Linked DNA regions of Homo sapiens. The protein of the gene in region 1 purifies or fractionates together with the protein of each later gene. This does not show direct contact. Each region holds a gene or a part of one and is shown in the gene's direction. Other genes may lie near its edges.

What was found.
Region 2: the proteins of RAB20 (region 1) and INF2 purify together in Homo sapiens (affinity purification with mass spectrometry; one large-scale study listed by BioGRID and IntAct). This does not show direct contact.
Region 3: the proteins of RAB20 (region 1) and ALKBH1 purify together in Homo sapiens (affinity purification with mass spectrometry; one large-scale study listed by BioGRID and IntAct). This does not show direct contact.
Region 4: the proteins of RAB20 (region 1) and RIOX2 purify together in Homo sapiens (affinity purification with mass spectrometry; one large-scale study listed by BioGRID and IntAct). This does not show direct contact.
Region 5: the proteins of RAB20 (region 1) and PGGT1B purify together in Homo sapiens (affinity purification with mass spectrometry; one large-scale study listed by BioGRID and IntAct). This does not show direct contact.
Region 6: the proteins of RAB20 (region 1) and UBP1 purify together in Homo sapiens (affinity purification with mass spectrometry; one large-scale study listed by BioGRID and IntAct). This does not show direct contact.
Region 7: the proteins of RAB20 (region 1) and MAGEB10 purify together in Homo sapiens (affinity purification with mass spectrometry; one large-scale study listed by BioGRID and IntAct). This does not show direct contact.

Annotation. Positions count from the first base shown.
Region 1 is NC_000013.11:110,526,662-110,531,084, reverse strand, and holds part of RAB20 (ras-related protein Rab-20), read left to right. Parts: intron 1-4,423. UniProt on the Homo sapiens protein: The small GTPases Rab are key regulators of intracellular membrane trafficking, from the formation of transport vesicles to their fusion with membranes.
Region 2 is NC_000014.9:104,706,406-104,710,725, forward strand, and holds part of INF2 (inverted formin-2), read left to right. Parts: intron 1-504; coding exon 505-646; intron 647-847; coding exon 848-1,597; intron 1,598-2,030; coding exon 2,031-2,182; intron 2,183-2,265; coding exon 2,266-2,327; intron 2,328-2,875; coding exon 2,876-2,978; intron 2,979-3,214; coding exon 3,215-3,300; intron 3,301-3,682; coding exon 3,683-3,783; intron 3,784-4,320.
Region 3 is NC_000014.9:77,694,084-77,698,506, reverse strand, and holds part of ALKBH1 (nucleic acid dioxygenase ALKBH1), read left to right. Parts: intron 1-3,606; coding exon 3,607-3,769; intron 3,770-4,423. UniProt on the Homo sapiens protein: Dioxygenase that acts on nucleic acids, such as DNA and tRNA. Requires molecular oxygen, alpha-ketoglutarate and iron.
Region 4 is NC_000003.12:97,958,430-97,962,852, reverse strand, and holds part of RIOX2 (ribosomal oxygenase 2), read left to right. Parts: intron 1-1,144; coding exon 1,145-1,264; intron 1,265-3,673; coding exon 3,674-3,802; intron 3,803-4,423. UniProt on the Homo sapiens protein: Oxygenase that can act as both a histone lysine demethylase and a ribosomal histidine hydroxylase. Is involved in the demethylation of trimethylated 'Lys-9' on histone H3 (H3K9me3), leading to an increase in ribosomal RNA expression.
Region 5 is NC_000005.10:115,231,522-115,235,944, reverse strand, and holds part of PGGT1B (geranylgeranyl transferase type-1 subunit beta), read left to right. Parts: intron 1-4,423. UniProt on the Homo sapiens protein: Catalyzes the transfer of a geranyl-geranyl moiety from geranyl-geranyl pyrophosphate to a cysteine at the fourth position from the C-terminus of proteins having the C-terminal sequence Cys-aliphatic-aliphatic-X.
Region 6 is NC_000003.12:33,437,233-33,442,288, reverse strand, and holds the start of UBP1 (upstream-binding protein 1), read left to right. Parts: upstream 1-1,883; 5' UTR 1,884-2,440; coding exon 2,441-2,553; intron 2,554-5,056. UniProt on the Homo sapiens protein: Functions as a transcriptional activator in a promoter context-dependent manner. Modulates the placental expression of CYP11A1. Involved in regulation of the alpha-globin gene in erythroid cells.
Region 7 is NC_000023.11:27,810,990-27,814,489, forward strand, and holds part of MAGEB10 (melanoma-associated antigen B10), read left to right. Parts: intron 1-3,500.

The DNA of each region.
Region 1 (4,423 bases):
CCTGAGGACTCACACTGTGCTGGCCATGCTTCTTCCCATAGCTAATGCAGCGCTTCCTATCCTTGATACAGGACGGGATCGTGGAAGTTAACAGCTCATTCCCTGCTATAAATTACGAAGTCCTGTTCTGGCTTCCATTTCTCTTGTTTAGACAGAACTTAAACCTCATAAAGTGAGTGGAATTAGCTCTTTAGGTGAACAGACACAATTGTGTTTTTAGATCTGTAAATTCGAGAAACAAACCTGGTGGGACCTGCCTCCTGAGGGCCCTGTGTCTGTGTAGAGGTGGGGTGGGTGGGACCTACTTCCCCAGGGTCCTGTGTCTGTGTAGAGGTGGAGCGGGTGGGACCTACTTCCCTAGGGCCCTGTGTCTGCGTAGAGGTGGGGCGGGTGGGACCTACTTCCCCAGGGTCCTGTGTCTGTGTAGAGGTGGGGCGGGTGGGACCTACTTCCCCAGGGTCCTGTGTCTGTAGAGGTGGGGCGGGTGGGACCTACTTCCCCAGGGTCCTGTGTCTGTGTAGAGGTGGGGCGGGTGGGACCTACTTCCCCAGGGTCCTGTGTCTGTGTAGAGGTGGGGCGGGTGGGACCTACTTCCCCAGGGTCCTGTGTCTGTGTAGAGGTGGGGCGGGTGGGACCTACTTCCCTAGGGCCCTGTGTCTGCGTAGAGGTGGGGCGGGTGGGACCTGCCTCCCCGGGGCCCTGTGTCTGCGTAGAGGTGGGGCGGGTGGGACCTGCCTCCCCGGGGCCCTGTGTCTGCGTAGAGGTGGGGCGGGTGGGACCTGCCTCCCCGGGGCCCTGTGTCTGCGTAGAGGTGGGGCGGGTGGGACCTGCCTCCCCGGGGCCCTGTGTCTGCGTAGAGGTGGGGCGGGTGGGACCTGCCTCCCCGGGGCCCTGTGTCTGTGTAGAGGTGGGGTGGTGGGACCTGCCTCCCCGGGGCCCTGTGTCTGTGTAGAGGTGGGGTGGTGGGACCTGCCTCCCCAGGGCCCTGTCTGCAGTGAGCAGGGCGTCTTCATTTCTGGCTGCTCTGAACTCACGGTTAAAGTCCTGGTCAGTTTTGCTGCATTTCAGTAGTTTGTCCAACAGTGTGGCTGATCAGACATTGGAGGCGTTCTTACAGATTCAGGTTTCCCTCACCACCAGGGGTAATTGACCTCTTCGTCTGTATGTGTTGGTGACATAAAGCTGAGCAGATCACTTACGGATTTGCTACATAGACGAGTAATAATTCCTGGACAAGTCGAACCTAGAGCCCCAGGCTCCGGTCACTCACCCATCCTCCCGTCTGCTTGGCCTGGAGACAGCCCAGGCAAAAAGGCGGGAGAGTCTGGCGGAAGGCTGGGCTCCTTCCTCAGGCTTGAACCCGTGCCCCCAGCCCTGATGATGTCAGGCCCGTGTTGGTAGTGGCCACACAGGCTCGGCAGCCTGGCTCCGTTCACCAGACCAGGGTTGGCAGCTCACTGACCCTTGGCTGCATTGGTTGAATTTGAACCAATTTGTGATTTTTCTCTTTTGCCCTGTTTCTGGGGCAGCCTGGGGCTCTGGCATCCCCAGAATTGGACCTGAGGCTGTTTATTTCTCCAGGAAAGTCCAGGTAAACCACCAGAACTCTCAGTGCTTTGGCTTCACGATTGGTACTGACGGACTCCGGTCTGGGGGAGAAGGCAATAGAGATAGAGATGCCTGATCCTGTTTCCAGGGAGAGGGACTTTGAAGTACTCAGTTTAAGCCCATACTTGTAGACAGGAAATCAATATTCTGAGAGATACAGGGGCTGACATGTGTATGGGGTTGGCAGCAGGGGGCTGACGGCCCGGCTCAGAGCACATTCACAAACTTCCAGAAAACGCGTGAGGGTCCTTGGATTCAAATACACTGTGAATCTGTCAAAGCCAAGTGCAAAAGGTCAAGTTGTAGTGACACCATTTTATTTTCATTGTCTTATGTTCACTCTCATGCCTTACATACCAGAGCCCCTACTCAAATTCAATTAGGATTAAATTCAGAACTTCTGTTCCCTGCGGGACTGGCCCTTCTTGGTGTGGACAATGCGCTCATTGAGAGCAGCCTGACTCTTCCATTAGCAATCCTAAAAGCTATACATTATCTCCAAAGCAGTATTTTAGAATTTCAAATATGAAAACTGCTTGCTTGTAAATTCTTTAGCTGGGGCAACTGCATTTAATTGGTTTGCATTCATTAATGGGTAGATAACAGATTATAGGGTTCAAGCAACAATTCTTACTTTTTTCTGGCTAGCATTTGTGATTCTTCAGTTCCTGTTTCCTTTCATTACTAAGATCTTTCCTTTTATATTATTATTTCCTTTTTTAGTTTTTTAAAGGCAAATCAGGCATTTTTATCTGGAATGGAAAACTATTTTAGGCATAGGCATCAACACGGTTCTCCCTTTGGCCCTAGTGAACTATGTAACAGAGACTTGAAAACCATTCTTCCAGGGTAGCTGGAGTGCCCCTGACTCCGCATTCCCATAGTCACACTCTTGTGAAATCTGGTGGGTAGAAGCTGATGACGTTTTTAGCTCATGTAAAAACCTCATGATGCCTGGACTGTTATCTATGGGATTAGTGTCCCTGAAACAAAAGTCTTAGTACTGTGGTAATGACGAAGAAGCATTTTTCTTTCTTTTCTGTTTTTTGTTTTTTTTTTTTTTGAGATGGAGTTTCACTCTTGCCCAGGCTGGAGTGCAGTGGCGCTATCTCAGCTCACCGCAACCTCCGCCTCCCAGGTTCAAGCAGTTCTCCTGCCTCAGCCTCCCAAGTAGCTGGGATTATAGGCACATGCCACCATGCCTGGCTAATTTTGTATTTTTAGTAGAGATGGGTTTTCTCTGCGTTGGTCAGGCTGGTCTCGAACTCCCGAACTCAGGTGATCCGCCCACCCCGGCGTCCCAAAGTGCTGGGATTCCAGGCATGAGTCTCCGGCCTTTTTCTTTCCTTTATTATTACCATTTTAAATTTATTTTAGATATGGGGTCTCACTGTTGCTCAGGCTGGAGTGCAGTGGCATGATCATAGCTTATTGCAGCCTCGAACTCCTTGGCTCAAGCAGTCTTCCCTCCTCAGCCTCCCGAGTAGCTGGGACTACAGGCATGCGTCACCATGCCTGGCTAATTAAAGTGTATGTGTGTGTGTGTGTGTGTGTGTGTGTGTGTGTGTGTGTGTGTATTTGTAGAGATAGGAGCCTTGCTATGCTGCCCAAGCTGGGCTCCAACTCCTGGCCTCAAGCAATCCTCCTGCCCTAGCCTGTTCTTTTTGAAGCTAATGCCTGCTGTATTGGGTTTTAAAGGCTTTTGATCATCATCTTCTGTAGTGGGAGAATGACTGTGGATTCCGGGGACACTGTCTGATTTCTGCCTGCTGGGGTCCAGTCCAGCTTGACTGGAAACGGATTGACTTCTCAGTCTGAAGCTGACCCCTGGTAGGCGTGCGGAAGGGAGGAATGTTGCCCTTCAGGTGCTGAATTCCAGAGCACAAGCTGCTTGCCAACAGGGTGGCTCTGTCGCCCAAACAACAGCATTCCCAGGCTGGCTTTTCCCAGAAGAGGGAGGTGACCCGGGTAGCTCTCGCACTTTGACCCTCAGACTGGCAGCAGGGCACATTCTTCTGACTCCTACCGGAGCTGGTCTGGGCTCAGCTCCCAGCTCGCTTTCCCTCCACATCCCCAAAGGGCACACTGTCGGCTTTGCTGAAGGGGGAGCTGGAGTCCACGCTCGGGGCCTGGGAGACCACAGTGGTCAGTAGACAGGTCTGTCTGGCTCTTCTCACAGGACATGAGTGTGTGTCTCTGTGGGCGCCTCTCTCCAGGGTTGCCCAAGGGGTGACCAGCCTGCCTCAAAATCCAGGCAGCATCGCCCAGCAAGGTTTGAGGACTTGGCGTCATCAGAATGTGTGGCCATTTCAGAAAGATTGGGGATGGGAATGGGATGAAATTTGGTTGTGCTTCTTGGCTATTTGGCTCTAAACAGTGGTTTATTGGCAAAGGACAGTCTGCCTTAGAGAGCCACATGTGTGCAGGTGTCATGCGTTCAGTCCATGCTCCAAAGCCCCACAGACCAAGGGGCCTTAACTTCATTTGTGTCAAGACCCCTCGGCCCCCGAGGGGTACAAGCCCAGGACCCCTTCTCAGAACACTATGCCCAAGTGCGTGCAGTCACATACAAAGGTAACCAGCTGTCCTTAAGTACAGTCGTCTTGAGCCTTTTTAAATTATGATTGATATGTGGTTCATGGTCCACATATTAATGAATGAAGGCATGGCAGGTCTGAAGGGTCGTGGGCATCACGCTGGAGTGTCTGAGGCATCTGGCATGCGGATGGAAGCACCTGCTGGCCCTGTTGGTGATGAGTGCCCCTTACTGCCATTTCTGCAGTTTGCTGCCAATATTTGTGGTGAAAGGAAATGG
Region 2 (4,320 bases), on another chromosome or scaffold:
CAAAGCCAGGGCCACAGGACCCAGAAGGACGGGGCTCCAAAGACCAGTGCGGCCCACAGCCGGCCTTACTGTCCTGGGCCCCAGCTGCCCAGTCCCCATCAGGTGGGCTTCAGAGGCCTCAGGGCTTGGTGAGGGGCTAAGAGGCTGAATTCTCGTCAAGCTCAGGCCTTCCCCTCATTCCCTGAACCTTGCAGCTCTCATCTGGGGGCAGTTGTGTCCCCAGGTGGCATCTGGCAACATCTGAAGACATTTTTGGCTGCCACGGCTGGGCAGGGGGTGCTGTTGGCATTGAGTAGGTAGAGACCAGTGGTTCTGTTTAACATCCCATAATGCACAGGACAGTCCCACATGTCACCAGTACCACAGTCGCTGAAACTCTCATCTCTAGGGATCCGTGGGAATAGAGGGGGTGATGGGGCTGGACACCCTGGCAGACAGGCCACAGTCCTTAGTCCACCAGGGAGGGGCCGGCTGCTGACCTGCACCCCACACTCGCCCGTCCAGGTGAGCTGCTCCCCGGTGTCTGCCCAGCTCCTGTCGGTGCTGCAGGGCCTCCTGCACCTGGAGCCCACCCTCCGCTCCAGCCAGCTGCTCTGGGAGGCCCTGGAGAGCCTCGTGAACCGGGCCGTGCTCCTGGCCAGCGATGGTGAGGGGGCGGGGCAGGGGCGTAGGCACAGCCTGGTGGGCAGACACTGAGGTCTTAGACCATGGGGGGGGGAGCCTGCCCTTGGCCCCAACCCATCCTCTGCCCAGGGGAGGTGGCCGCTTTTTCCTGCCTCTTCCTCAAGCCCCCATCCCTCCCTCTCCGGCTCCCTTCTCCCTTGACCCTGGACATCCCCTACTGCAGCCCAGGAATGCACCCTGGAGGAAGTGGTTGAGCGGCTCCTGTCTGTCAAGGGGCGACCCAGACCGAGCCCCCTGGTCAAGGCCCATAAAAGCGTCCAGGCCAACCTAGACCAGAGCCAGAGGGGCAGCTCCCCGCAAAACACTACAACCCCCAAGCCCAGCGTGGAGGGCCAGCAGCCAGCAGCAGCTGCTGCCTGCGAGCCCGTGGACCACGCCCAGAGTGAGAGCATCCTGAAAGTTTCGCAGCCCAGAGCCCTGGAGCAGCAGGCGTCCACCCCACCCCCACCCCCACCCCCACCCCTGCTCCCTGGTTCCAGTGCCGAGCCCCCTCCCCCTCCCCCACCACCCCCCCTGCCCAGTGTGGGGGCTAAGGCCCTCCCAACAGCACCCCCGCCCCCACCCCTGCCAGGCCTGGGGGCCATGGCCCCCCCAGCACCTCCTCTACCACCACCCCTGCCAGGCTCCTGTGAGTTCCTGCCCCCACCACCTCCACCACTCCCGGGCTTGGGATGCCCGCCCCCACCCCCACCCCTGCTGCCTGGTATGGGCTGGGGCCCTCCTCCACCCCCACCTCCACTACTGCCCTGCACCTGCAGCCCCCCCGTGGCGGGAGGCATGGAGGAGGTCATCGTGGCCCAGGTGGACCATGGCTTGGGCTCAGCATGGGTCCCCAGCCATCGGCGGGTGAACCCACCCACACTGCGCATGAAGAAGCTGAACTGGCAGAAGCTGCCATCCAACGTGGCACGTGGTGAGGGTCCCCAGACCCCCAAGGGAAGCTTCCCCTAGGACGGGGGCTGGTCTCTGCTGGGGAGAGGGGCAGGTGGCACATGGAACTTGTGTGCGCGTCCTGCCCGTGCGTGGCCAGGGCAGCCTGGCCCTTGCTCTGGGCTCGGCGCCTGTGGTTGAGGTGGGGACGGGGGAGGAGCAGGGCAGGGGCTACCTCTGAGGACCCCCCTCCACATGCTCCCGTGAGCCAGTGCATCTGGGGTGCCATGGTGCCCTGGGGCCCTGCTACAGGTGCTCAGGTAGGGAGGTAGGGTGCCTGCTGTACGCTGGACCTGGACCTACTGGGCCCCAGGCAGGACATCCTTTAGACCCTCTGGGAGGCTCCAGCCCCTGCCTGCTGGATCGCCAGGCCCCGGGGCTGCGAGAGCCTCACTGGCCGTGTCCCCACCCGACAGAGCACAACTCTATGTGGGCGTCCCTGAGCAGCCCCGACGCCGAGGCTGTGGAGCCCGACTTCTCCAGCATCGAGCGACTATTCTCCTTCCCTGCAGCCAAGCCCAAGGAGCCCACCATGGTGGCCCCCCGGGCCAGGAAGGAGCCCAAGGAGGTGGGGACGGGGAGGGGACTCAGACCGGGGCCGCCTGCCTGGCCACCCTCCGGTACCAGCCTGTTGGGTGGGGGGTTTTCTAGATCACTTTCCTCGATGCCAAGAAGAGCCTGAACCTCAACATCTTCCTGAAGCAATTTAAGTGGTGAGTGAGGGAGGTAGCCCCCATCCCAGGCCACGGAGCCTCGCCTCCACCTGAGCCTTCTGACTTGGGCCCAGCAGTGCCCTCTGCAGGCCGCCATGGGAAGTGCACACTGCATCCCCTAGGCAGGATTGTAGGCGGGTAATAGCCCCATGCTGCCCCAGCTAGGGGCTGTCCAGGCTCCCAGGGACAGAGCGCTGGGACCTCCCCCCACAAGGCCACAGACAAGTAGTGGCTAAACCAGTGGGCCCTGACTCTCAGCCCCCGAGTCCTTTCCTGCTGCGGGTGTCCAGCACTGGCCCGAGGGAGCTGGCTGGACCCGACCCATCCTGCATCTCCTGAGCAGGGCCCATGGAGGGTAGCGAGGGTGGGAGTCAGCCTGGGTCCCCTTCACCGCGTGACCGTGGGCAACAACTCGACTGTTCTGTGTCCCCCCTGCCCTGGCCACCCCATGACTACGTGGGGAAACCCTGCCAGGTGGGGTCCCAAAGAGGCTGGGTGGGGGTGACTCATGATTCACTCACCCCTGCCCGGTCCTCTCCCTGCTCCAGCTCCAACGAGGAGGTCGCTGCTATGATCCGGGCTGGAGATACCACCAAGTTTGATGTGGAGGTTCTCAAACAACTCCTTAAGCTCCTTCCCGAGAAGCACGAGGTAAGAGGACCACCCCCACACCCCACCCCCAGTTAGTGCCACCAACCAAGGGAGAGGCTGTCCCGGGGGCTCCCAGCAGGGAGACAGAGAAGGGAGGCATCCCAGCCCTACCTCTGCCCTGAACCGTGAGCCACAGGGAGCCATGATGGGCACTGGAGGGGCTGAGCCCGGCGGGCAGTCCGGGAGGGCGGGAAGCTGGCATGGGGGGATCCCACATGCCGTTCTCCTCCTGGCAGATTGAAAACCTGCGGGCATTCACAGAGGAGCGAGCCAAGCTGGCCAGCGCCGACCACTTCTACCTCCTCCTGCTGGCCATTCCCTGGTGAGCATGGCCGCCCTCAGACCCCAGGGCCTGGGCCCCAGGTGGGAGGAGAGCAGGAATAGGGAGCAGGGCCCAGCCAGGGAGGAGAAGAGGCTGTGCCAATGGCTGCCCCGGGCTCCAGGAGCAGCATTGCAGCGGTTGGGCTTCTAAACATCACTCGAGCCCCACCCCCAGTCCTTCCCCTCAAAGTGTGGGGCTGGAGGCCTCTGGAGGAATTGGATCCTGCTCTGCGCAGGCCCGGGAGGGTGCCTGTTGGATGGGGCAGGCGGTGGAAACCCCCTCCCTTTGCCCACCACCCAAGCCAGAGCCCTGTGCTGAGTGCCCCTCTGGCAGGGACAGGTGGGGGGTGCAGGCCACTGATCCCTGTCTGTGCCATCCCCAGCTACCAGCTGCGAATCGAGTGCATGCTGCTGTGTGAGGGCGCGGCCGCCGTGCTGGACATGGTGCGGCCCAAGGCCCAGCTGGTGCTGGCTGCCTGCGAAAGTGAGTGGGGCCAAGCGGGGCACGTGTGCAGGAGGGACAGGCCTCCGAACCGGGGCGGGAGGGCTGCTCGGGGCCCCTGCTACTGCCAGTATCATAATGGCTGCTAAGAGCACCTAAGGGTGCCAGCCTTCACCACCACTCCGGAAACCACCCTGCTGCCACCACCTCGGTGCACACACCTACTGGACGCACAGACACACGCATGCCCACCGCCACTCGGGCACGTGCACACACACAAGCACACTGCCACTCTCCGGCACGCGCACACACAAGCACACCGCCACTCAGGCACGTGCACACACGCATGCACACCGCCACTCGGGCACGTGCACACACACAAGCCCACAAGCACAGTCACACACATGCACACAGGACACACAGACACACGTACACACCCCCCCAACACACACACCCTCACATACATGTACAGACATAAGTGCACACACACGGGCACCATCTCTGAAAGGGGAATCCATGGGGACCTGCCACAGCCACTGGGCAGGGAGAGGGACAGGTACGGACCAGTGAGGCACAGCT
Region 3 (4,423 bases), on another chromosome or scaffold:
AGGACCTGTCCAACCATGCTCACTTTTGTTGAGATGACCTTGCTATTTATCTTATTGGGAAAACTGAGTCCCTCAGGCACAAACCCTTTGAGCCTTCAATGCCCCCAACACTTATAAGCAAATGTTCTCATTTCCACCATCCAGTCGTAGAGGAGGAGTTCCTTTAGTTCAAAGCCAGTCTCTCTACCCTCTTGATCCATCTCACCTTCTTAAACCTCTTCCAGCTTTCAAGACCTTGCTCTATTTCTTTCCTCTCTTCTGTTTCCAAGTGGCTCTTCCCTGTTGGCTCTTTCTTCACAATCTGTAAGCATACTTAGGTCTTGCCAGTCCTTAAAAACCAAAAACTACCCTCTTAACTCTATTTTTCTGTGACTATGCCTAAGCTTTTATTTTCTTTCATAGCTGGTCTTACAAAAAGGAGTTTAACTTGTCTTTATTGCCCCCTCTCCAGACAAGGTTTTTTATCACTTTATCTCTAATTCTTTTTTTTTCTTTTGAGGCAGTCTGTTTTTGTCACCCAGGCTGGAGTACAGTGGTGCAGTCTTGGCTCACTGCAACCTGTGCCTCCTGGGTTCAAGCGATCCTCCCACCTTAGCCTCCCAAATAGCTGGGACTACCTGCGTATGCCACCACGCCTGGCTAATTTTTGTATTTTTTGTAGAGACAGGGTTTCACCATGCTGCCCAGGCTGGTCTCGAATTCCTGAGCTCAAGTGATCTGCCTGCCTTGGCCTTTCAAGTGCTAGGATTACAGGCATCGGCCAGGCCACCATGCCCGGCTTCTAATTCTTTTTTTTTTTTTTTTTTTTTATTACAGCAAATGATTTTATTTGTAATTTCTACCCCACTCAGTGCCTCCTCCCAAAAAACCTGCACATGAATTTACAAACCTATTAACGTATAAATAATGAGAAACATCCTGGCCAGAGTCTCCCGGTTGTCTTTGCTGGAGATTAAGACTGGAGGGGACGCTATCTTCATACACACTTCCAGTGACATCGAGAGTCACTTGGTGGCTGTTCTGGGCCCACAGCTGGCTTTTTCAACACCTCCAAGTTCAACCACCAGTCTGTCTGCTGTGTCCAAGGTAGAGCCCAGGGACTGCGAGCATGTGCAGCTCCATTGCCCGTCATTGCTCCAGCTGAGGTCATGCTGGAAGGGGTGCTTCCTCTCCTGACAGTGCTTCATGGTGGCCAGCCCGCTCCTGCTGGCACTCAGAGCCTCAGTACTGGGCCACCTGGCAGCACCCACAGATTTTGAACTCCTGGAGCTACTTCTCAATCACTGTGCAGGAAGGGTAATGCTGCTATAGTAGGTGTAAGAATTCAACTCTTCCACCACGTCTCCATTGGTGTTACAGTACCAGGTCACAGTTAGGACAGGTCACTGCTCTTCTTTGGGGTCCATGGGAAGCTGCTGAATTGCAAACCAGTACAAGCTTTGCTACCTCTTCTGGAGGTCTCTTTGGCTTTGGGCCACCAGCCCCACAGCACCAGCTACAGGTTGTCCAGGCAATTGTCTCAGTCAGGGCATTGAGACGTACCGCCTGGAACCCAGGGGTCATGCCTCTTCTGTGCTCCCACAGCAACTCATGAAGGAGTCTTCCCAATCCTCTTCCTCAGTGCTTGTCAAAAGCATACCTGAATATCTTAGTACCATTTCTATCTGCATCTACTTCCATTTGGACCTCAGAGGAGTATCCCTCCACCAGCAGGATATCTTTGCTCATCTGTCAGCGTATTTGGTCTTTATCTGACTGCATACTGCCTATACTACTCTCTCCTACCAGAAGCTACAGCCACTGGTGACAGGAACAGAGCTCTCATGAGGGTAAAGTCCCTGGCTAGTACAGCTACACAGGTAGCTCCCTCGCAGCCAATGAGCTGAGCCATGTGATGTCCAATTTGAAGTCAGTCACAGCCAGGCCTATGCTCTCAGCCAGCAGTGCCACTCCCATGGGAGACAGGGGTGCTGGGGCAAGGCCAGGGCTAGGGTCAGGCCAGGCAGGCCCCAGGTAGGACAAGACCAGGCCCGGCTCACCTTGTTCATGCCAGACCTCCCAGGCACTGACCTCTAATTCTTAAGAAAGTGCCTAGTACAGACCAGCCTGGCCAATATGGTGAAACCCCGTCTCTACTGAAAATAAAAAAAATTAGCTGGGTACAGTGGCAGGCACCTGTAATCACAGCTACTTGGGAGACTGAGGCAGGAGAATCACTTGAACCCGGGAGGCAGAGGTTGCAGAGAAGCAGGATCACACCACTGTTCTCCAGCCTGGGCAACAGGATGAGAGAGACCCCCATCTCAAAAAAAGAAAGAAAGAAAGTGCCTGGCACATATTGTGTGTTTGATGAATGAATGAATCTTTACCATGCGTAGGATTCCAGTTAAATATTATTATTTATCTTTTGTTTTTGAGACAGAGTCTGGCTCTGTCGCCCAGGCTGGAGTGCAGTGACGTGATCTTGGCTCACTACAACCTCCACCTCCTGGGTTCAAGTGATTCTCCTGCCTCAGCCTCCTGAGTAGCTGGGATTACAGGTGCGTGCCACCACGCCCAACTAATTTTTGTATTTTAGTACAGACGGTTTCACCATGTTGGCGAGGCTGGTCTCAAACTCCTGACCTCATGTGATCCGCCCACCTCAGCCTCCCAAAGTGCTGGGATTACAGGCGAGAGCCACCACGCCCGGCCTATTATTAATCTTTTACAGAGAAAAATGAGGTTAGGTTGCTGTCAAGGTCACAAAGATCTTTAACACACATGCTGTAATTGTTTACAAACACTGAGATAATACAGAGACACTAACTGCAGGAATTTGCAAACACTGAGATATTACAGAGACAGTAACTGCAGGAAGCAACTGTCACCCCTGCAGCTGAGAAGAACAACAAAAGAGCTTGGGATTACTACATTGAGAAGCTTGGAAAAGGGACTACATGGAACTGGGGCTTAGACTTCTGAGGAGAGGACATAATGAGGCTGATTCTAGTGATGTGGAAAAGCTACATTAGAACCAACTTCCGCCCTCCAGTCTTCCATTAGTGACCCTTATAGGCACAGGTTAGCAGACAGCCAGCTGGCAAATAAGAAATGTAGCTGGCAGGGTCTCAGCCCCATATTATGAAGCTAAGTATAGAAGAGTGGATTTGAAACTGAGAGAAAATAGACCAATAATGAGCACGCCATTCATTAGACGATGACTTTCAAATCTATGTTTTAGCTAAAATTCATTATAAGATTTCGTGTAATCATGCCTGTAATAAATGAAATAGGGAGGTAAAGAAGTCTCGGATGACTCTAAGTGTCAAGACCTGATAAAAATTAGAGGTGTACTTTTACCACTTCCAATTCTAAAGTTTGCTTTGGGATAACAGTTGTTGTGGAATATTTATTTCTCTTGAGAATACCCAGAAAGCCAGACACATTTGCATAGGGGTAGATGTCTAATGTTCATCAAAACCTACCTGTTCATTAACTTGAAGCATGACCAAAAAAATATGGGGAGTAAATAACAAAATAGTGAGTATAAAGATGTCAAAATTATTTGAATAACTGATGGAGAATTTCCCCCTCTTCTTTTTTTCCCACCCATCTTTTGTATAGGGTTTATTTTTATCCCAAACCCCTTCCTCCCAGGTTACCAGTGGCACTGGGTGAAACAGTGCCTTAAGTTATATTCCCAGAAACCTAATGTATGTAACCTGGACAAACACATGTCTAAAGAAGAGACCCAAGATCTGTGGGAACAGAGCAAAGAGTTCCTGAGGTAAGTCTTGTCAATCAGAATGAAGTGTTAATACTCAGCTCAGATCATCACAGGTCTTTGAAGGAACTGTTCTATAACAATGCAGTAAAAGTGACTGGCTGGGTTTTTTTTTCCCTTCATTGTTTCCAAGCAAAAACAGCACAATTGTATTCTTTCCCCAGGAACATTTGGACAGATGCTTTGACAGTTATAGTAAATTGAGATCCATTTTAAAGACTTGCTTATCATAGCTTAGATAATTGAGTTCATCCTCATTAATCATCACATGATCCATTTCCATTAGCTTCAGCCATTTTTTTCTACTTAAAGTGAGTTCCTTTGAAGGCTTTTGGTATCCTAGGAAAGGTAACATCGAAAGCTCTTTGCTTCTACCCTCCTAGATGGATTCAGTGGTACTAGCCGTTTTATGATAGGTCAGTTGTTCCTGATGAGAATAACTAATATTTTCACCTTCATGCTTCAACATTCATTCATTCATTCCACAAATACTTAATGAGGGTCAGTAGTGTGTCAGGCATGATGCTAGGCGTTGGACACAGAAAGATAAAGGCACCCTCCCTGCACTCAGTAGTGCATAGTCTCTGGCAAGAATGCATTACCTATGAGAATAATTACTGTAGAGCTCAGAAAGTGTTATGATGCGGTTTAGAAAAA
Region 4 (4,423 bases), on another chromosome or scaffold:
CCTGGCTCCATCATTTACTAGTTGCATGGTCTCATGCCTCAGTTTCCTCATCTGTAAACTGAAGATAATGTTAGTACCCTCTTTATGAGGCAGGGTTATTGTGAGGGTTGCATAATTGATATTTGTAAAGCACTTGGAGACAGTGCCTGGCACATAGGAAGTGCTAATATCTACATGGCCTAATTGCCCCCCTCCTCTCTTCTCACCAGCCTTGGTAAAATCAGACTTCCTTCTCTCTCCTGGGAATATATGGCCCATCGCTAGGCCCCTAAGTCTGATGTCTGCTCTGAAGAGTTGATAGTGGAGAGAAGGAACATTACCCAGCCTGTTATTTCTTCTCTGTCTGTACCTTCTTCCCGTGTTATCATTTCTGTTCCCATTGCTTTAAATATCCATTTTGTGTAGGCAATTCCCAAGTGTAAATCTTCAGTCCTTAGTTTCTGCCAGAACTTCAGACCGACTTAAAGACATCTCCATGTGGGGGGGGGGGGGGGGGTCTTAGCATTCCAAACTTAACATTCCTAATATAAAACTCTTTTTTTTGTCCTGAAAACTTGTTTTTTAGTAAGTTTTTCCCATCTCGTTACGTGGAAAGGGGAACTGATTGCCCAAGTCAAAAACCCAAGAGTATTTTTTTTAACTCCGCTCCTTTACATTGAGTCTGTCGGCAAGTCCTGTCTGTGCTGCTTCTAGAGTGCATCCCACTCTTCTACCTCCCTCCTTGCCTTTCTTACCACCCCAGTCACTTCTCGCTTGAGCTGCTGCCTGAGAAGCTTCCTCACTAGTCTCTCTGACTTCCACTCTTTTCTACAGTGCATTCTTCACACAATAACCAGGGTGAGCTTTCAAAAATGTAAATTGGATTGTGTCCTTCCCTGCTTAAAAGCCTTCCGGACTCCCAATTGCCCACCTTGTCAGTCATCCCTTTATCTGTTCACGTCTGTTACATGGTGTTTCTGCACTGGAATGGAAGATTTTTGAGACCATGGGTATTGGCTGTATCATTGCATAATTCCCAGTATCTGGTGTATAATAGTTGTGCAGTAAAGACTTCCTAAGTGAACAAGAACATGCTCTTATTCTTATTTCTAATACATTTTTCACTCCCCCACGCCGACCCTTTCTTTTTTCCTTTTTTGTAAAGGATGAGCTTTGGAGGATCCAGGAGAAGCTGGAATGTTACTTTGGCTCCTTGGTTGGCTCGAATGTGTACATAACTCCCGCAGGATCTCAGGGCCTGCCGCCCCATTATGATGATGTCGAGGTAAGAGATGGAGAAAATTGCCCCATGTTGGGAAGAATGAGTTGTTGAGAGCCTGGTTTAGTAGAGTTGTCAGGGTGAGTTCACATTATTCTCTAAGGCTCTTAGGTCTGTATTCGCTCTTTCTGTGCAGTTTCTGAGATATTGATTTCATCAAAATGTTGGGCCAAAGTAAATCCCACTAAACTGGTTTCCTGCTCTGTCTCAAAGGAACAGCTTGTTTCCAACCTTACTAATTTAAAGAGCCACACATTCGTCTGAAACAAGTATTTATTGAATTTATCTACAGAAAGGTGTGCTTGGCTTTTCCTTTAATTTCACAAAGTATGGTCTTTAATAAGATGAGGTCACAAATAATCCTTCATGTGCTTTCATTTTGTTCTTTTTCAGTAGCTGCCAAAAATATGTATATATTTTCCATTTGTGAAAATCTTGGGGCAGCTTGAATGAGGGTCATGGTTTCACTTAAGCATTGGCATCTTGACAAGTGTTGATTTCACTCTGATATGGCTTCCAAAAAAATTTAACTCTTTGGCTTATGTATTCCATAGTTTTATTTTTGTCCTAATATAAGGTGTAAACACAGAGTTATTGGTAAAAAGTCCCCTTTTTCTCCTTTGATAGCAATTTGACATCAATACATTTTCACAAAATGTTATTTTTAATATTTTTAATAGAATATCTTTGACTGAATAAAGAATAAAAAACTCGAAGTTTTCCTATCTCCCCAGGCCCTTTCAACATTCAGGATTTAGACATTCAGTAATATCTGAAGCTTGGCTTTTCCATCAGAGATTATGGGCTTTTAGCTGTCTGATAGAAGATTTAAAGGAATGAGATAGTGGGATATAAAGAACTCAGCGAGGCTCTAAGAAAGTGAAAAGAATGAATATCCAGTGTCAGGATTCACGATTCCGTTTTTAAAAATAAAACCCAGTAGTGGCAACTTTTGTTTAACTGTGGAATGACATGCATTTCTCATCTTTCATTTTTATTTTTTATCGGAAACTTGACCCTTGTGCAGTGTGGGGGTTAGTGGTGCCAACACCTCATGCAGTCAAAAATCTGCTTGTAACTTTTGACTTCCCTAAAACTTAACTACTAGTAGCCTTCCATTGCCTAGATATCTTACTGATAGCATAAATTGGTTAACACTTATTTTGTATGTTATATGTGTTATATACTTTATTCTTCAGTAAAGGAACCTGGAGAAAAGTTATTAAAATTATAAGAAAGGGAAAAGTATTTTTAATATTGTGTTTATCAGTACCGTAAGTTTACATCATTTGTTTACAAGCTGAATCGTCCATCTGAAATGGTGGGTAGCCACAGCTGCAGGCCTTAATCTACAATACACATCAAGCAATTCAACTTTTTCTTGTAACGTTACGACTTTTTTCTGTTTCTCGGGAGTACTTGCAGTAGCAGTAGTGGCACATCATATGGGTCCCATGGTGTTATTCACGGCTTAAGTTGTTGCACTAAACATGATGAAAAATACACAAGAACTGTTGAGAGATCATTTTTTACTGTGATACACAATTCACTGGAGAGAGGAACTGCTCATGTGGAGATAATTAGCATCACACTTGAGCTCGTGGCAATAGCAACAGGAGGTAGCACAAAATTATTACAGTAGTACAATATGTACTAAAGTTAATTTTATTCAGCTATTCCATATTGCATCTTTAAGTTTGTTTACATTTCTTGACTGCAAATGGTGGTCTAGAAGTATTTGTATAGGTAAGTTTTGATAAATTTTAACCTTCTGTAATAGATTTGTGAATATTTTATGGTAGTAGATGATAGACTAGTATCTACATATGTTTTTATATTTGATGCATTTATGACATTCTTAATTCTTTTGATATTTTTCATGTTTTTCAAATTGTTGCAAATCTCCTCCAAATTTTCCAATATAATTTATTGAAAAAAATCAGCATATAAGCGGACCTGCACGGTTCATCCCCATGCTGTTAGGCCAGGCGTGGTGGCTCACGCCTGTAATCACTTTTGGAGGCCCAGGTGAGAGGAGTGCTTAAAGCCAGGAGTTCAAGACCATTCTGGGCAACAAAGTGACACCCCATCTCTACAAAGAAGATAAATTAGCTGGGAGCTGTGGTGCATGCCAGCTTCCCAACTACACAGGAAGCTAGGGCAAGAGGATCATTGGAGCCCAGGAGTTTGAGAGGCTGCAGTGAGCTGTAATTGTGACACTGCACTCCAGCCTGGCCAGGAGAATGAGACTGTCTATAACAACTAAAAAAAAAAAAAAAAAAAAAAAACCTGTGTTGTTCAAGGTTCACCTATATATTTGTCTATTAGCCCCTTAGAGGGCTAATAGTCCGGAAGCACTTTGTGTGTGAGTTGTCAGGAAGCTCTCTGATGCTCCTGGGCCTTGTGGGTCTCTAGGTTTTCATCCTGCAGCTGGAGGGAGAGAAACACTGGCGCCTCTACCACCCCACTGTGCCCCTGGCACGAGAGTACAGCGTGGAGGCCGAGGAAAGGATCGGCAGGCCGGTGCATGAGTTTATGCTGAAGGTATGTGATAACCGTTGTGGGCACCTCATTGTTAGAGCCATTGTGGTTTCCCCTATTGCTAAGACAAGTTCAGGCTCAAGGTTTAGAGTTCGTGTGATGGTCCCCGTGGGAATATATCCCTGGGTTTCAGGGCAGGGTGCTTCTCATTGCTGTCAGCCAGCACATGTAATTTCTGAAGGAGTCTTGGTGGTTTGCACTTGGAGAAGTGGGTTAAGGAAGTATTAAGTTCATTTCCCAAATAACCTGTTTTCATGTACAGTTCAAGTCCAACAGGAAGAAAGAGAATTCAGTGAACCACTGACTCCTCTAGAGGAAAAATGGAAGCTCTGGCCTTGGGCAGCTTCTCCACATCCAAGACGATGGTCAGCACAGGGCTGGAAGTTGCTTAGGCAGAACATAGCCAGGGATCCCTTAGTTTTTTTTGTTGTTGTTGCTAAAATTCCAGTGTGACTCATTTTCATCCTGGTTATATGTCAGGCTATCTCTGTGCCCCCTGCATAGTTACCAGAACAGTAGTAATCAGGAAAGTTCTTGAGGATTCCTTCTCTGGGGATTCAGGTGGCTTAATCATGTGCAGGTTCCTTGGCATCTTGCTGCTGAGAAAATCTGTCTTTGAGCAGT
Region 5 (4,423 bases), on another chromosome or scaffold:
TGTATAAAAGGAGAAATAAAACTTCTGCATTCCAGGTTTATTATTTCCCAAATATGAAGTTTTTCATTTTATAGATTATTTTGAGGCTGTTAGAATATTTTAGGCTGTTAATTCAACTTTTCATAGGCAATATTTCAAAATGAAAATGCCTGTGAGTTCCTAAGAAGAATGGAGTTGCATTTAAGTGAGTGTGTAACAGTGGATCATATTTTTGTAGATTCCACAACAGCCCAAATTTTAAAAAGCCTCTGGATACAGAAAGAAGATACCATTAAAGGAGTTTTAAGAGGAAAAGAGATTTATGTTTGATAGGAGGGTGGGTGATAAGAATTTTTGGTATGAATAGTACAGAAGTAATACTGTCTTCTCAGTGCACTGTATTTGGAGGTGCAGCAAGTTGATTTGCCCTGTGTCTGCTCACTTGGTTAAGGTGGCATATGCCAGAGTTTTCTCTGTAAAGTTAGTGTTTTTCCCTTTGTAATTACCGAATATCTTGTGGTGAGATACCTGGAGACTAAATATTCAGTGAGTCCCTAATCAAATTTTTATCCAATAGTGTTGTTAGTATGCATTGATGATTTTCCAGCTCTAGCATCCTTCCTATAAATATCAGTTAAAATTCTACTGTTTGAAAAAAACTTTCTCTCTGCATTTATTTATTTACTTATACTTACTTATTTATATCTCTATGGACTTCAGTTTCTTATTTTATTCAGTGGGTTGTAATCTGTTACTGTCATTATTTTGATGCTCAGATTGTCCTAGATTAGGCCTGTGGAACCCCTTTTAGTAGGCTCTATGCCCTTTTGACATGTTACCCTCATTCTTTGAAGACCTCCTTGCTTTCTGGCACAAGATATTCCAGGTTTATCTTCTACTTTTCCATCCTCAGCTCTGGAATCAGTCATTTCTTTGAGGAGCCTTGGTTATTCTTGTTGGAGGATAGGGTTTAGAAACTAGAATCTGGGTACTAAGTATGCTCATTGGTATTGCGATGTCATTACTTCTAGGCCTTTTCTCGGGCAGAGATAGGAAATGTATGTGTACATAGGCATCCCCTTACAGACACACAGAATCTATATTTCTGTATCTATTTATATGTCTATATATTAAAATCATGAATCTATCGTGATGCCTCAAATTTCAGTCTTAACACCACAGGGCTCATTTTAACTTTCGTCCTTTCATTTATGACTCCATTTCTGATAGTGACAAGCAGTCCTGGCTCCTATTACCCAGAATACATTGGTTCTTTTTGTTTTGAGTCTGAGGGCATATAGTCAAAGTACTATATTTAAGAAGTACTCCAGTTACTTATTTTATTTCCCCCCTTTAATATGGTTATGTTATCTGTTTGAAGTACCATTAGGTTATTTGTTTCTCTTTGAATTCCATTTTAGGCTTTTCCTTCACTTAGCTCTCTCCTGCCCACAACTTCGTTGACTTTATTTATTTACTTAATATGTGAAAAACTAATTTGGTTCTTAAGGTCAGAACTATACAAAAAGATATATACAGAGAAGTGTGACTCCTTGCCCCTCACCCTCCCTGTATTCCCCCCTCTTCTTAACTCCCATACTTAACATCTTGTTCCCTGTCACCCTGTAGGTAACTATTCTCGTTAGTTTTCAGTTTATCTTTCTTACATTTCTTATTGATGAGAAGATATGGATATTTTTAATGCTTTTCCTTTCTTCATAAGGTAGCATACCATATTCTTTTTTTTTTTGCTGTTTGCTTTTTTCACTTAACAATATAGCTTGGGAGAAAAAAAAAAACACCAATACAATGTGAAAATTACTCCTTATCAGTTCAGAGAGATTTTTCTCTTTTTCTTATAGTTTCCTATTATATTACTCCACTGTGTGGATGTGCAGATGTACCATGGTTTTTTTCAGCTATTCTACATTTAGAGCATATATTTTGCAATTACAAATAATGCTGTAATTAATAACTTCCTGCATATATATTTCTATATTGTTATAGATACATCTTCAGGGTAAATTTCTGGTAGTGGAATTGCCTGATCAAAAGGTAAATGCATATGTAATTTTATTAGAGATTGCCCATTTTCTCTCCAAAAAGGATAGACCAGTTTGTTTTCCTACCAATATAAGAGAGTGCCTGTTTTCACATAGCCTCACCAATAAAAAGCGTTATACTTTTTTTGTTTTTACCTTTTTTTCTGGTAGTCGAAAAGTGATATTTCAGTATATTTTTAATTTTGCTGCCCTCCTCTCATGATTTTTCATTTTATTATTTCTTTTATTATGAGTGTAATTGACCATTTTCTTAACTCGAGGGCCATACAAATCCAGACTGCAGGCCAGAGTTAGCCTTTGGGCCATTGCTGACCCCTAGTTCTAGTCCATTATTTTGCATTTGCTTTTTTTTTTTTTCCTTCTTTTTTTTCTTTTTAGGAATTCCATTTTAGTGTCTGTTCTTATTTTTTTGCCTGACCTTCTTTTCAGCCACTTTCTCTTTGACCTTTTTGACTTATCTCATTTTTATTCTCTTGGATGTTTTCTCCTTTTTTCAGTGTCCCTTGTATTTTCATTTGAGATTATTCTTCCTTAGTCATCCTGTAATTTAAAATTTATTTCTTATTTTGTCTTTTTCTTCTATTTCTTTTCTAACACTATTTCTCTTTTTATTTCTATTGTTTGTTCATCTGTTTTTAGCTTTTAATTTCGTTTTTTATTTCCAAATGGTTGTTTGAGGGTATGTATTTGAGTGTGGAGTGCTACATTACAGTTTTCTTCTGATTCATGCCTATTTCTTGGGAGTAGAGGCAGATTTTCATATACTTAGGTGTTAGCGTTTCATTTGCTGTATTTTCATCTCAGAGTTACTTTGTATGTTAGTGATTTTTATTTTTTCTGATAAGAATTCCTAGTTTAAGATTGTTCTCTTCATTGTAATGCAGTATGCTTTCTTTACTGGGTGGCTTTTTTTGTAGCTGGGGTTGTTCTATGATTTTTCTGATAGGAAAAAGGTTCTCTTTTGTTTCTCAGGTATCTAAATTTTGCTTTTTTGAGCTTTCCTTTATCACCTGATTTTCAAAGGGCTTCTCCCTCCTTTTTTAACTTTCTTCACCAAAATTTACACTCTTTGAGCCCTGCCACTTTGACTTGCACATTCTTTTAAGTGCCTTCCATATAGCCAGTGCTGTGTTTACCAGGCCTCTTTCTGAACAGGCTATCCTCATTTTGCATGACAGTGCCATACTATAATGATAACCACACAAGCTGAAATGATACAAGGTGATTTTAATCATCAATGGGAAAAATTATGATTGTTTTATGACCTTTAAAATTTTTGCCAAAACTTTGAAAACTCTTCCTGTCAGTTATAAATGTATGATGTTTTAAATAGTAAAATCAGTATATAGTATACTATGATGTTTTAAATAGTAAAATCAGTATATGGTATACTATAATTTAAAACATTAGAAATATTGTGAATATTGCCTTCTTCTCATTATATAAATTATAAGATGGAGTATTTTTTCTGTGTCTTGGCAAATGACCACAATCTAAGTTTCTATCAGCTTCCAACGTTGTGTGTTTTGTGTTTTCAGTGTTGTGAAGTCGCTGAGAATTCCTTTTATGTGAAGTTTTTTTGCCCATAGCAGTTCCCTAGAACATCTTCCTCTTTTTTTATCACAAGCTCTTCCCTTGCTTATAGATGTTTCACCTTCACTTAGTTCTTCTGGTGGTATACCTAGAGTCTCAAACAGCAATATTATCAACATTCCCGTAATAGCTGTTTCTTCTATAACTCTAATTTTAAGTTCATACCCAGTGTTAATGCTTTTTATTTCTTTACTGCACTTTCATCTTTGTTGGCCAAGCCCCTCTTTCTGTTATGCCTTTTAATAAAACATCATGTGGGTTTATCACTGAGAGACAAAGAACACAACCACAGTCTGCTATCTGTGTGTGAACTGAATAACATGAGCAATGACCAATTCCTAACAGACTTTGAAAAAGGTGGTATGATTGATCACTGATCGCGATGCACATGTGTTATTTATGTAGTGATTTGCAGAGTGAAGAGCCAGCAACGGAGTTTTGTACTTTTTGCAATTATGGTTAATATGCTGCTGTGGTTACTGAAGTTTGTTGTGTTATTTAGCTAAACCATGGCAACTGGAATGTGTGCATAAGAGAACTGTGCAAAGTGAGAACTGCCTGTATTTCTCATATTTAGGGTGGACTTTCTCTTAGGCAGTGATTTTAGATCAATCTCAGAACTACTGTTAGCTCCCCTCCTCTCATGATTTTTCATAAATCACCCTTGCTCTCTGCAAAGGTGTGTAGAGTTGCAATAGACGGCTTGCTGGGATTTGATGTTTCTTTTTCTGTAGACAGGTAATCTGAAGCTTGAGTGTGTCTTCTTGCTTTGCTAAGATTTGAGATTT
Region 6 (5,056 bases), on another chromosome or scaffold:
CAGCCTGAGGCTCAATTTCTAAATATTTGACCCAGTACTTCCTTAGGGCACAGCCTGATTGAAAAATTGATGGTAGCTTGTACTTTTACACTCTCTCCAAAAACCAGAGAATTATCTTCCCCCAATTCCATTTCTCCAAATTTTCCAACAACTAATAGTAGGCCTGGCTAATCTGGTTATAGACTAGGTTATGCAAGTGAGGTGAGATCATGGAATGAAGACATATCTGAGACCCCCAATGAGACCAATGTTTCCCTTGACTATCCAATTGTTTGTGCAGATTTATTTGTAATAGTGGAATGGAGCTTCCTGAACTGATGGCCAATCTAATGTTTTCGCCTGGAATCAGAGAAATCTGGATTAGTCAAATAGCCCCGGTTTACCTGCTTACTGTGTGACCTTGCACTGTGTAATCTTTACACATTTTCACCTGAATTACCTCATCTCTAAAGTATGGCTTTATCAAATGAAATGTTTGCAAAAATGTTGTGTAAAGAGAAAAACATTCTCCAAGTTAATTTGTGGTTTTTTTTTTTGGAGACCGAGTGTTGCTCTGTCTTCTCCCGGGTTCAAGCCTTACTCCCGCCTCAGCCTCCTGAGTAGCTGGGATTACATGGGCGCGCCACCACATCCAGCTAATTTTTGTTATTTTTGGTAGAGACGGGGTTTCACCATGTTGGCCGGGATGGTCTCCTGACCTCAACTAATTCACCCGCCTCGGCCTCCCGAAGTGCTGGGATTACAGGCGTGAGCCTGTAAGTTAGTATCTAAATCACACAGGCGTTGAGACTATTTTTTTCTGGCTCAGTGCCACTGCTTTATTAGGCTGACATTTTAATCTATGTATTTTTGCACTTAAACTGGCAAGTTGGGGCGGGGCGCTCAGCATTTGGGTCTTATTCTTAGGCAGTAAGTTCGATGCAGGGCGAAGCCCGGGCCTTGACGTTCTCTTCAGCAAGGATTCCGCCCGTCAAGCGCCAGCAGCCGCTCCTAAGGAACTCTGATCCGCACACTGGCTCTGTAAGTCAGCCTCTGGCTCCTGCTTTCTATTTCATCTCTTCCGGTAAAAAGATTTCTGTCTTTTGGCCGCAGTGGCGCGTGCCCACGCTAGGTCGCTGAGGAAGACCCTTCGGGCCTTCTGAGCAGCGTAGCTGTTACTGTGGCACGTCCTAATGGTTCGGTCCAACTTCAGGAGACCGCCTGCCCTTAGGATGACCAACAGCTAGTTCAACTCAGGATAGCCAAGCTGCTCTCGGCAATGCAACCAATAGGGGAAGTCTTTCCAGAGCTCTTTCTCAGGAGCGTTGATTGGCTTATTCTCACGCCAATCAAGGTTTTCTGCACAACTGGCTTTTCTGTCACCAGATGGGGTGCAAACCGCTCACTCCCTCGGTAGAGAGGGCATAAAGCAGAGACGACCGGGAAATACCACAGAGGAGCAAATCACCTCCGGAAGTGGCGTTTTGGGTCGCTTTCTACCATGCAGTCCAATGAACTCTTTCTTTTGGCAACAAATTCCGTCTTCGAGCCCGCCCAAGGTGAAGAACATTTTGATTGGTTGTTTAGTCGGGGGACACAGAGACTCACGGGAGCTTCGTCCAAGCCCTTGCAGGTATTGCTCAGTTGGCCTGTCAATCATCTCGCTCGCTAGAAGGGGCGGAAACTGGCAGCCCTTTTGGCACCGCCTCTTCCTGGGCTGCTGTGCGGGGACGCAGCGAGGCCACCCCGGCTGGGAACAGCCGCGTGGGCGGGGCCGCATTGCACTCTCTGGACAGTTCCTGGGCCGCGAGGCGCGGGGAGTGGCCCTAAGCGCGGGGCTGTACGGGGAGGGCCGAGGCGTGGGGCGAACGCCGGGGCGGGGTCGGGGCGGGGCCGGGGGAGGCGGAAGCGGCGCGTGAACCTAAGTCGGAGTCGCGTTGAAGCCAGCGTCCGGCCGGCAGAGCGGCGTCGGCGGGGTTGGCCGGGGCGGTGTGGCGCTAGAGCCTGGGCGGGCCGGGGGCAAGGAGTCAAGGCTTGGGGGCGGGTGACGGGCGGGCGGAGGGCTTGCCCCCGTGTGGTCCTCGGAGCGGCCCGAGGTCCAGCCTCCCAGCGGTCCCGGAGGAGGATGCGACCGGGGGGCCCCGGGCGGGGCGGTCGGCGGCGGCTGCAGCGCTAGCGGCGCGGGGGCTGGGCGGCGGCGCCGGCATGAGGCGCAGGGCCGGTGTCCGCGGGAGGGTGGCGCTGCCGGCGGCCCGGCCGCTCCCGCTGCAATTGCTCGCTGGGCTCGTCGTGCCCTGCCAGTGGGGCCCCCGCAGCTCTCGTCCCGGCCGCCGCTGGTGACCACTCGCCGCCCCTCCGGAGGCTTCACCCGCGCCCTCCCCCAGGACGCGCCAGCGGAGCTCCGGCTCCTTCGCCCTGGACGCGGAGGCCGCGGTGTGCGGGGCGACGGCGAGGCCGGAAGATGGCCTGGGTGCTCAAGATGGACGAGGTGATCGAGTCCGGGCTGGTGCACGACTTCGACGCCAGCCTCTCGGGCATCGGGCAGGAACTGGGCGCCGGCGCTTACAGCATGAGGTACTGGGCTCCCTGGGCGGGGAGAAGCCTCTGTCTCCTTGGGGAAGGCCTGCGCAGCCCTGAGTCTCTGCCAGATGCGGCTGCTCCCAGAGGTGCGCGGGCCTCCTGGGCTGCGGGGTCGGAGTCCTGCCGCGTGGCGGTCGGGGGCCATGGAACCCCAAAGGCCTCTGCTCGCCCTGGTGACGGGCGGGTGGGGGAGGATGGCCCCGCAAGCGTCGGCCTCGGACCGCTCCTGAGTGCTTCATATTTGCTGTAAAACACGCCCAGCTATTAGGATGGCTTGGGTTGGTGGGGGAAGGGGCTTCTTTTCCTTATAAGTGATTTACAAGTCCCATTGGAGCTAGAATACACTGTACGAAAAGGCAGCACTTATATTGGGAGAATACTGTCTAGCGTTTTGGGATCAGTTCCTACTTTGTTGTCCTACATTATGATCTTTTCTGGCTGCAGATTTTAATCACTTGATGTTAGTAAATTATAATTGAAAGAGCAGCGGTGGGAGTAGCACTGTGACTTCGTTTTGTTCTTTTGATTGTCTCAAAGTGAAGTTTCTCATTTTGGAGACTACCCTCTCAGGCTGTTTCCTCTTGAGGGTTTTAAGATGCAGTGATTGCACCACAAATAATTGTTTAGTCTCTGCTGTCTGTACCAGCAGTCATTCATTTTAATATGGAGAGATTGAAACAGATCTGAGCTTAGTCTCCGCCCTTTATCCTTTTTAACTGTTAGGAATTTGGAAACTCTGTATTTTTTTAGTGGCTTTATTGAAATATAGTTTACCATAGCGTTGACTTGACTAATAAAGTCTAAAAATCAGTGGTTTGGCAGCTTTTCAATAATGTGAATTAAGTGTAGCTTTCTGTTCTTTAGAAAATGTCTGATGTTTTGGAAGTGCTCTACAGTTTCCCAGTAGCATTCATACATCTTACTGCAGCTCTAGAGGAGGACTTCTGGGTTAAAGCTGGCCTGGAATCTTGGTGGCTGCTCCTTGAAGTAATTGGGTCTTTAAATCTTAAGGAGAAATTCTGAGCCATAAAGAACTCTCAGAAAGGTTGGAGACATTTCTTGGAGTGTGGAAGTGAGTAGTGGAAGGCATATTAAACCTGGAGTTCCCCAGCGTCTGGCTCTGATTTGGTCTCTGTTGGGCTTCCTGAACTTGGCACCTCTTCTCTCTGCAGTTGTATAACTTAAGGCCTGTAGATGAGTTGGCTTATTTTCTAAAACAGCTGTTTCAGTTGTTGAGGAAATTGAGCTACTGAAAGTCATGGAGTCACCCCAGAGGGGAGTATTAGAGGCAGTGCTTCTCTAGTGAAAACGCACTCCTCTAGTGCCATTCTGCTCCTTAGCTCTCTACTGGAAACACGAGGCTTATAGTCAAGGCAAAGGAGGCACGTGAAGCAAGTTCAATATGTGTCTCTCCTCAGTTGCTTCTCTTTTATGGTAAAATGAAAGTTTGCTGCTGAAAAGTTTACTTATTGATAGCTATTTTGAGCTTTTACTTTTTTCTAGGGTTTTATTTGACCTGTACTTTGATTTAGTGATTCAGCCAACTTATTAATGTAATAACTTCTGTGTATGGTTTATTTCCATGAAAAGGAAGTACAATCTTGATGATTTTAAACCTTTCCCTGACCATGTATTTTTAAAGTAATGTGTGAGATCTTTGTAATTCTGTGTAACCTACAGTACTCTTTACAGGGATAATTTTCCCTTGAATTCTTTTTTGGTTGTGTCATTTAATCTAAATTTTCAAAGAAGTTTGAAGGTAATTACCATTTTTAAGAAGGTTTTTTTTTCGTATTTAATTGAGTCCTCAAAAACTAAGAGATGAGAGTGCTTGCCTCTTGCAAATTCAAGGCCCTTTGTTTGAAATTCTCAAACTAAGGAAATTCCAAAATTGACTCGATAAGGAGAAAATCTGAAGAAGGCGTTAGCTGCTGCAGGCCTCCCTGGACTGCAGTTGTACTTTCCATGCCTGGCCCTGGAGCCCTGAGAGGGTTGGAGTGCCTATGAATGGCCAGCTTGAGCATTCAGTCACTTCCTCTGGCATCCAGTGGGAAGGAAAGCTTATCTTTCAAAGTTCAAGAAGTAAACTTGAAGAAATTACTGGAAAAATGACTTCTTGATACAAATTGATTTTGTAGGCAGCTTTCTATTTTTCTTTCAAAATGAAACATGCTTACTGTATTTGCTTTTTGGATGGCTTAAAACAAGAGGTATTTCTTAAAAGACTTCTCTTAGGGAATGGTTTCCTCATCTTTTGGGAGGATAGTTTGAAAGGAAGAAATGGCTTCTGTCAGTGGTCTGACTTAAAATTAGGCAGGTGTGATGTTTGGTATGCTTGTAGACCTAGCTACGTGGGAGATTGCTTGAGCCCAGAGGTTCAGGGGTGTAGTGTGTGCTATGATTGCACCTGTTAATAGCCACTGCATTCCAGCCTGGGCAAGAATGAGACCCCCTTCTCTTTTGTTGTTTCCCCCCACCCCTTTCTCTTAAAACAGTA
Region 7 (3,500 bases), on another chromosome or scaffold:
CCTCCCTCCAACTGCATACTCTGGGATATCAAGTGGAAGAGGGCCTTTCTCTGATTGGTATAGGCCTCAAGTCCTCAGAGGGGAAGGTATGAGGCTGTCAAGGTGAGGAGTCATTAGGAGGAACCTGAATTTCCAGAAGTAAAAGAGGATTCATAGAGCCCTAAGAGTGCTGTCTTTCCTGATAGGGGTCCCTGGGGAAGATACATCTGAGGCCTCCCTAATATCTTTATCAGGAATGTCAGGGATGTGAAGGCCTTGCTTGGAGGGGATAGGTTTCAGGTAAGCAAAAGGAGGGCAATCAGACCCTCCAAGAAGCAAAAGTAAAGACTGAGGACTGAAAACTAATTACCTCAAGATAAAGAGGGTCTCACCGATCTCTGCATTGCTGCCATTCCACAATGTCCCCCTGCAAATGTGGTCACATGAGATTCCCCCTCAATTTCTTGTCTGGGGAGTCAAGGATATGAGCGCTTTGGAATGAGGGAGTCAGCATCAAAACAGTTCAGCAGTGAGATAACAGGTCCTGCCAGAAGTCAAGGTGATGGCCCTGAATGTGAATTGAAAGAAACATCGTCTACCCCAGAAAAAAAGGAAGCTCCATAGAGTCTGGACCTGCCAGTCACTGTATCAGTCCCAGTAAGATGCAGGTAATACTGGCAGGCTTCAGCAAAGGTACAGTCTAGTTACTTCCACTGATTCCTCAGGGGAAAGGCCCTTCAGAGAAGAGTAGCCTCATAGGATCCTTGAACAGTGTTCTCAAAGAAACCTACAGAAGCAACTTCCATAAAGTCAAGGTGATATCTTCCTGCTGGAGGATCACACCTTCTTTCCTTGAGGTCACTTCATCACCTGCCATCTGTCTCACACTACTACTTACCTCTGAGCAGAGTCATAATGCCTCGGGGTCAGAAAAGTAAGCCCCGTGCCCGTGAGAAACGCCGCCAGGCTCGAGAAGAGCCCAAGGACGTGGAAGGTGCTCAAGTCACTGTAGCAGAGGAAGGAGAGTCCCTCACTTCATCTCCTCATTTCAAAGATAGTCCTGAGAGGTCATCTGCTGTCGAAACACCCAGCAATGAGCAAGAGCCTGGGATAGCTCTAGCCATCACCACTGCTGCAGCTGTTTCATGCACAGCATCTAATGAAGGCATCGACAGCCAAGTTGAGGAAAGGTCAAATGCCTCACAGGCCCAGGCTACCACTGGGCAGTGGCCCAGAGGCCCTATAGATAAGAAGATTGCTATGTTGGTGCATTACCTGCTGTACAAATGTCAAATGCAAGAGCCCATTACAAAGGCAGATATGCTGAAAAATGTAATCCAGACGTAAAAGAGCCTCTTCCCTGAGATCCTGAGGAGAGCTTCTGATCACCTGGAGTTGGTCTTTGGCCTTGACGTGAGAGAAGTGGATCCCAACAAGAGCATCTATGTCCTTGTCAACAAACTAGAATTAGGCCATGACACAAGAGTGAATCCTAACAGAAGTTTGCCCAAGAATGGCCTGCTGATGACCATCCTGAGTGCGATCTTCAGCCAGGGGAATTGTGCCCCTGAGGAGGAAGTCTGGAAGGTGCTAAATATGATGGGGGTATACGAGGGACAGGAGCACGTCATCTATGGAGAGCCCAGGAACCTCCTCACCAAAGATTTAGTGCAAGAGCAGTACCTGGAGTATTGGGAAGTGCCCAACAGCAGTCCTCCAAGCTATGAATTCCTGTGGCGTCCACGAGCCTATGCTGAAACCAGCAAGATGAAAGTCCTAGAGTTTTTGGCCAAGATCCATGGTACAGTCCCCAGTGCCTTCCCATCCCATTATGAAGAGGCTTTGAAAGATGTGGAAGAGAGATCCCAAGCCAGAATTGCAGCCAGGGCCCGTACTGCCACCATGGCCAGTGCACGTTCCAAGGCCACGTCCAGCAGCCTTGCCTGCTCCAAGTGAAGGCTGAGGAAAATGCTTTACTGTGTTTTTGAAGAGGACAGTCAGTGTTTCACTAGTGGAGGGTTGGCTGTGTCTCGTTATAACATAGTACATAACATGTTCTGGGTAACTTGGATATTTAAACGTTGTTCCTTTTAATAGAAGGTTAAAGTAGCTTAAGAATCCAAGATTATAAGTGATAGTAAGTCATACATTTATTGATGTTTGTGAGGTTTTAGAGTAGAGTTTTACTATTTTATAGAAAAAAATGGGAAAATTTCCATCTTATTTAGTGATCTCCAATGAGATAACATAGTAGTGGATTAGCCATTTCCTTGGAAATATTTTTTTAAAAAAGCAGTAAAATAGTTGGGATGAAGAAATAGAGGTAAAATGTAAAAGATGATAAATGCTTTCATTCCGTTATGTTTAGTCTGTTCTGTAAAATTAAGAGATAGATACTTAGATATGATTAGTTTATTCAACAATGTAGGAGAAGGAACATCATAATAAAACTGACTTCTTGCACACTGGCTCACTTATTTCTCAAACATTACTTGGGCATCTGTTCTTTGGAGGGAAGGCGCCATGCTGGTACTGGGAATGTCAGGATAAACAAGACCCAAGGGCACGCACTGAATTGTAGAGTCTAAGAGCAGCTGTCATGTAAGGAAGATGGTGAGATATACCCTAAGAAGTAAAGGATGAGTAAGAGAAGGTGGGAAGATCCAGATCAGAGCAGTCAAGTGAAAATGTCCTGAGGCAAGTGGGTTTGGGGCCTTAGGAAACTGCAAACCCTTCAGTGTCAGTCAATTTTGTTAGTCTGGATAGTGGGTTGGTTGAGGCTGTGGGAGTACAGAGCAGGGGCCAGATCCTCAAAAAGACTAATGCCTAGAATGAAGAAGTGCTTTTAGCAGTTATTTTGAGGTAATAGATAAACCAGAAATAATTGTAAGATGGGAATGGAAGGTGTCTTGCATCCTTTTCCAGTGTCATTTTTCCAGTGCAGTTGGGCACAGTCCACAAACTATGTTTTATGCACATCAGCTCCAGGGACCTTCTGAGAATCAAGGGTGACCTGACATGAATGTGCTCAAAAGCCATTGTGCTGGCATTATTTGCTCTGGCCTGGGAGAAACAAGAGCCCACTAAACCCACTTAATTAAAAGGGCTTTTAAAAAAACTTGTACTTTAAGTTCCTGGATACATGTGCAGAATGTGCAGGTTTGTTATATAGGTATGCATGGGCCATGGTGGTTTGCTGCACCTATTGACCCATCATCTAGGCTCCCTCCCCCTGCCCCTCACACCCCAACAGGACCCGGTGTGTGTTGTTCCTAAAAGGGCATTTTTATTAGGTTGTCTTTAGTATCATTTGGCAAACTCAAGTGAGGGCTAGATTTTTGATGCGAGTGAAAGAAATGAAAATAGGGGTGGTTTGGATGGAAGGATAGTTGAAGGGATGGAAGGAATTAGTCTTTGACATAAATTATAGGAGTCTTGAATCCAACTGGGGAAGACTACCCCACACCCGCAATAAATAAGAAATCCTCAAATTTGCAAAGTAAATAACTGAGTTTTACTTG